Linked DNA regions of Homo sapiens. The protein of the gene in region 1 purifies or fractionates together with the protein of each later gene. This does not show direct contact. Each region holds a gene or a part of one and is shown on either strand. Other genes may lie near its edges. The genes, in order: GMFG and FN3K.

Region 1 (2,914 bases):
GCCTGCCTCGGCCTCCCAAAGTGCTGGGATTACAGGTGTGAGCCACTGCGCCCTGCCTCATTCTTTGTCTTTTCTTCTGTTTTCTTGCCTCAGAACATTTCCCCAGAGGAGCTCAAAATGGAGTTGCCGGAGAGACAGCCCAGGTATCCTGGGGGAAGAAAGGGTTGGATCAGGCCATGAGGGGAGGGGTGATGTTGGAGGTATAGGCTAAGGGACTGCTGGAGTTCCAGCCCTATTCATGGACTTTGAATCTCTGTGTTTGGCCGAGTGAGGTGGCTCATCCCTGTAATCCCAGCACTTTGGGAGGTCAAGGAGGGTGGATCACTTGAGGTCAGGAGTTCAAGACTAGCCTGACCAACATGGTGAAATCCCGTCTCTACTAAAAATACAAAAATTAACTGGGCGTGGTGGCATGTGACTGTAATCCCAGCTACTTGGGAGGCTGAGGCACGAGAATCGCTTGAACCTGGCAGGCAGAGGCTGCAGTGAGCTGAGATCACACCACTGCACTCCAGCCTGGGTGACACAGCGAGACTCTATCTCAAAAAAAAAAAAAAAAAAAAGAATCTCTGTGTTTGAGGCCAAGAGTTCATACTCTAGAACTTTTTGTTTGTATAGCAATATTTTATTGCAGAATTTTATACCGATTATTTATGATACCGGTTTAAGAGTCTTTTTTTTTTTTTTGTACAAACTTTGTTGAGTTTTTGTTTCAACATTACGCTGGCATCATTTTTTAAAAATGAAATTTTGGCCAGGTACTATGACTCCCACCTGTAATCTCAGCCCTTTGGGAGCCTGAGGCGGGAGGATCACCTGAGGCCAGGAGTTCGAGACTAGCCTGGGCAACATAGCAAGACCTTGTCTCTATTTTTTTTTTTTTTTTGTTAGAGACAGAGTCTCGCTCTGTTGCCCAGGTTGGAGTGCAGTGGCGCGATCTTGACTCACTGCAACCTCCGCCTCCTGGGTTCAAGCGATTCTCTGGCCTCAGCCTCCTGAGTAGCTGGGATTACAGGGGCCCACCACCATGTCTGGATAATTTTTGTATTTTTAGTAGAGACATGTTGGCCAGGCTGGTCTCGAACTCCTAACCTCAGGTGATCCCTGCTTCGGCCTCCCAAAGTGCTGGGATTACAGGCGTGAGCCACCGCGCCTGGTGGAGGACCTTGTCTCTATTAAAAAAAAAAAAAATTAGCCAGGCATGGTGGCATGTGCCTGTGGTTCCAGCTACTTGGGAGGCTGATGTCGGGGGTCAGTTGAGTTCAGGAAGCTGAGGCTGCAAGTGAGCCAAGATAGCACCCCTGTACTCCAGCCTGGGTGACAGAGCAAGACCCTGTCTCAAAAAAACAAAAAAAGAAATTTTCCTTCTTTTTCAATGTTTGGGAACACTTTAGGTAGCAAACAAATTAATTATTATTATTGTTATTTTATTAAAAAAATTTTTAGAGACAGGGTCTCACTGTGTCACCCAGGCTATTGGGCAGTGCTGTGATCCTGGCTCACTGTAGCCTCTAACTCCTGGGCTCAAGCCATCCTCCTGCCTCAGCCTCCCAAGTAACTGGGACTACAGGCACTGCCACTGCACCCTGCTAAAGGAATGACTCGACTTTTAACTATCAGGTAGAATCCTGGGCGAAGTCACATGAGCCTGGTGCTTTTTTTGGTGGAAGAGCTCTTTGACTATTTCTGTGAAAACTGGTCTGCTAAGATTTTTCATCTTGACTGAATTCATTTTGGGTCTCTAGGATTAGAGGCTGTAGGACTCAACAAGGACCAGCTTCATGGGCATATGATAATTGCACAGGGCCCCGCACCCAGGAGGGGGCCTCACACATGGGGGTTAACGGTCACCTTCTTTATAGTTTTATCTTTGAATTTCTGTTTTGTATGAAGTCAGATGGGACAATGGACTTCACACAAATGTGCTGGGGTTTGGAGCTAGGTTCACAGGCAGTCCACCACCTGGCTGCCTCCCTGAACAGGTTCTCAGCCACCCACTCTCTGCACCCACCCAGTGACCGCTGCTGTCCTTGGGTTTCCTGCTGGTGTAGGGAGGGTCAGGGTCCAGAAGGCACCCCTTGCCTGACAAGTTACAGGGTGTTCCTGTGAGCATCTGCACTCTGCCTGCGCATATCCTCATGCCCGAGGGAGCACGACTTTAAATAGCAAACTAAAAAAGACAGGCTGAGCGCAGTGGCTCACACCTGTAATCTCAGCACTTTGGGAGTCTGAGGTGGGAGTACTGCTTGTGGCCAGGAGTTCAAGACCAGCCTGGGCAACATAACAAGACCCCCATTTCTACTAAAATTTTTTAAAAAAAGGCCAGGCGCAGTGGCTCATGCCTGTAATCCCAGCACTTTGGGAGGCTGAGGTGGACAGATCACTTGAGCTCAGGAGTTCGAGACCAGCCTGGGCAACATGGTGAAACTCTGTCTCTGCAAAAAACACAAAAAACATTAGCTGGATGTGGTGGCACGCCCCTGTAATCTCAGCTACTTGGGGGGCTGAGGCAGGAGGATCACCTGAACCTGGGAGGTCGAGGCTGCAATGAGCTGAGACCACGTCCCTGTACTCCAACCTGGGTGACAAAGTGAGACCCTGTCTCAAAAAAAAAAAAAAAAAAATTAGCTGGGCATGGTGGTGTGCACCTATACTCCCAGCTACTCTGGAGGCTGAGATAGGAGGATTGCTTGAGCCCAGGAGTTCAAGACTGCAGTGAGCTAGGATCGCACCATTGCACTCCAGCCTGGGCAACAGAGTGAGGCCCTGTCTCTAATAACAGTAAAAAAAAAAGACGATGATCAGTCTAGAGAGAGACTACAAAAGAAAGGAAAACAATTTTCCTGCTTCTTGAACAAGATGCCCCACATTTTCATTTTATACCGGGCTTGGATGATTCTGTAGCCATCACTGG
Region 2 (3,822 bases), on another chromosome or scaffold:
ACCATCACTGCTGTTTAACTCCAGAACATTTTCTTTCTTTTCTTTTCTTTTTTATTTTTTTGAGACGGCATTTTGCCCTTGTTGCCCAGGCTGGAGTGCAATGGCACGATCTCGACCCACCGCAACATCGGCCTCCTGGGTTCAAGCGGTTCTCCTGTCTCAGCCTCTCAAGTAGCTGGGATTACAGGCATGCACCACCACACCCGGCTAATTTTTGTATTTTTAGTAGAGACGGGGTTTCATGTTGACCAGGCTGGTCTCGAACTCCTGACCTCAGGTGATCTGCCCTCCTCGGCCTTCCAAAGTGCTGGGATTACAGGCACGAGCCACCGCGCCTGGACTTAATGTTGTATTTTTAGTAGAGATGGGGTTTCTCCACGTTGGTCAGGCTGGTCTTGAACTCCCAACCTCAGGTGATCCACCCACCTCGGCCTCCCAAAGTGCTGGGATTACAGGTGTGAGCCACCATGCCTGGCCAGAACATTTTCATTATCCTAAAGCAGAACCCATTAGCAGTCACTCCCCATTTCCCCCTTTCCTGGTCCCTGGCAACCTCTAATGTACCTTCTGTCTCTTTGAATTTTCTGGATATGTCATATGAGTGGAAACACATAATATGTGATCTTTTGTATCTTTCATTCAGCATCATGTTTCACAGCTCTTCCATGTTGTAGCAGGTGTTAGAATGTTATTCTTTTATGGCTGAATAATATTCCATTCTATGGCTAGGCCACACGTTTCTTTACATATTCCTTTTTATGGCTGAATAATACTGGAGCCTCTTGAACCATCATCTTTGAAATCTGTGAAGTTCCAAAGAAGACTTTGGACAGCCCAACTGCCCTGTGCTTCTCTTGAAGAAGCCAATATTGGACCATATTTTGGTTTTGTTAGGAACACAGCACCCATTATATAAGAGCTAGTTCAAAGTCACTGCTTCTTGAAGAGAGAATACTTTCAAATCTGTCTCCTTGTCGACGCCCGTCCTGACTAGTTGGGTCCCTGCGAACAATGACCAAGCTCTCCCTGGTGTGGGTAGAGGGTGATTCTCCCAGCTGGAGGTCACCTGGGGCAAGATCCTCATGAAGCCCAAGCAGATTTAGGGTTCCCAGCCAACAGGCAGTCCTCACATCTGGGCTCGCTAGAACTGCACATGGAGCTTACCAGATTTACCGAGACCCCCGAGATCTCAGCCACAGCTGGCTCCCCTGGGGTCACACACCTGTCCGGAGCCAGTGAGCAGCACCCTCTTCACCTGTCCAGGTGAGCACGGCTGGGTGCAGCTTGTGGTCCTGTGGTCCTGCTGTGGATGCTGAGGTCAAGGGCTGCAAGTGGCGGGCTCTACAGGACTTGGCTGGCCCAGCAGAGTGGTGTTTCAAAGAAATGAAGTGAAATCTTACCCAGAGCCCCTGTGTGTGAAGCAGACGAGAAGGGGGCTAGTCTGTTTGGAGCACAGGGAGCCCCTCAATGCCCCTCGGACTCCAGGATCAAGGAACCCACCTCAGATCAGGTGCAGCCTGGCTAGGAAGGGTGAGGCGCCAGGGAGGACACCTGCCCTGCTTCCTGCTTGTTGTGCCTCGGACAGCACCAGGTTCCGGAGGCTTCCCACTCCTTGGGAGGGCTCAATGGGTCCTGGGGGAATGTGTGCTGCAGCCAATGGGGGGCAGTGCTGAGCGGCGGGCTCCTCAGACACCTGGGCACTAAGGCCCCCTGGGGCTGCCAGCTGGGTCGGCTGTGGTGCTTGCCCCATGCTCTGTACACTGCCACATACAGGCACCCTTCTAAGCACTTCACTGAACTCAACTCACCCACTTGCCCTAGCAGGTAACCAGGCAGATAATGTCACTGATCCGTTTTATAGATGAGGAAAGTGACATGCAGAGTTCATGCCTGGGTCCATGGAGCTTGTCAGCGGGGCAGCTGGGCTTCGACCCTCAGTCTGGCTTCAGACCACAGGCCCTGACCATGACGCAGCCCCTCTGTCAGGGGAGGCCTGGTCATTGGGACCAGCTGTGTACCCAGGTGGCACCTTCCCCGGGTAGCTTGGAGGATCACAGCCCCTCTGTTCAGGTGGCAGGACTGGGCTAGCCCAGGCTGGTCGCCTGCTTCCAGCACTAAACCTGGTTGTCTTCTGGAAAGAGTACAGAGCTCAGACGCTGGGAGCTTGGGCAGGCAAATGGGAAATAACGGGAGGCTGCACGGTGCACCTCTGAGCTGGGGATCTGACAGCCAGGCTATGGGGAGGGGCCTTTCCATCCTGCTCTTGAGGTGCACACAGCACCAGAGGGTGAGCCCAGGGGCCGAGTCACCACAGCACCCATGTGCAGGGAGATTCTTGGTGGGGGCCACTGACCAGGGCGGTCCTCCCCGAAGGAGTTTTACAAAATAACCCTTTGTATAAAATCAGCTTCGTATTTTTCTCTACAGAGGTGTAATTTGACATAAATTGCACCCATTTAAAATGTATAATTTGGTACATTTTGATGTTTGTACCTGTGAACCTTTACCACAGTCAAGGTGAGTATACTGATTACCCCCAAAAGGTTCCTCGTGCCCTTCCCTGCCCCTGGGCAACCATTCATTGGTGTTGTCACTGTAGATTAGTTTGCATCTTGTGGAATTTAATATAAATAGAATCATGTGGTATGTCTTCTGTCTGCTTCTCTCATGAAGGGGTGGGTTGCCCCTCCACACCTGTGGGTGTTTCTCGTTAGGTAGAACGAGAGACTTGGAAAAGAAAAAGACACAGAGACAAAGTATAGAGAGAAATAAGGGGACCCAGGGAACTAGCGTTCAGCATATGGAGGATCCCGCCAGCCTCTGAGTTCCCTTAGTATTTATTGATCATTCGTGGGTGTTTCTCCGAGAGGGGGATGTGTCAGGGTCACAAGACAATAGTGGGGAGAGGGTCAGCAGACAAACATGTGAACAAAGGTCTTTGCATCATAGACAAGGTAAAGAATCAAGTGCTGTGCTTTTAGATATGCATACACATAAACATCTCAATGCTTTACAAAGCAGTATTGCTGCCCGCATGTCCCACCTCCAGCCCAAGGCGGTTTTTCCCTATCTCAGTAGATGGAAGGTACAATTGGGTTTTATACCGAGACATTCCATTGCCCAGGGACGGGCAGGAGACAGATGCCTTCCTCTTGTCTCAACTGCAAGAGGCATGCCTTCCTCTTATACTAATCCTCCTCAGTACAGACCCTTTATGGGTGTCGGGCTGGGGGACGGTCAGGTCTTTCCCTTCCTACGAGGCCATATTTCAGACTGTCACATGGGGAGAAACCTTGGACAATACCTGGCTTTCCTAGGCAGAGGTCCCTGCAGCCTTCCACAGTGTTTGTGTCCCTGGGTACTTGAGATTAGGGAGTGGTGATGACTCTTAACGAGTATGCTGCCTTCAAGCATTTGTTTAACAAAGCACATCTTGCACCGCCCTTAATCCATTTAACCCTGAGTTTGACACAGCACACGTTTCAGAGAGCAGGGGGTTGGGGGTAAGGTCATAGATTAACAGAATCTCAAGGCAGAAGAATTTGTCTTAGTACAGAACAAAATGGAGTCTCCTATGTCTACTTCTTTCTACACAGACACAGTAACAATCTGATCTCTCTTGCTTTTCCCCACACTCTCACTCAGCATAATCATGCTGATATTTATCCAAGTCTAAAATCCTTTGATATTCATCCGTGATACACATCCATGTTGCATGTGTCAAAAGCCCATTCCCCTGTACGGATCTAACACAGCCTGTTTATCCATTCACATGTGGATGGATTTCTGGATCATTTCCAGTTTTTGCTCATACAAATAAAG

What was found.
Region 2: the proteins of GMFG (region 1) and FN3K purify together in Homo sapiens (affinity purification with mass spectrometry; one large-scale study listed by BioGRID and IntAct). This does not show direct contact.

What each region holds. Positions count from the first base shown.
Region 1 is NC_000019.10:39,330,306-39,333,219, reverse strand, and holds part of GMFG (glia maturation factor gamma), read left to right. Parts: intron 1-93; coding exon 94-143; intron 144-2,914.
Region 2 is NC_000017.11:82,741,864-82,745,685, forward strand, and holds part of FN3K (fructosamine-3-kinase), read left to right. Parts: intron 1-3,822. UniProt on the Homo sapiens protein: Fructosamine-3-kinase involved in protein deglycation by mediating phosphorylation of fructoselysine residues on glycated proteins, to generate fructoselysine-3 phosphate.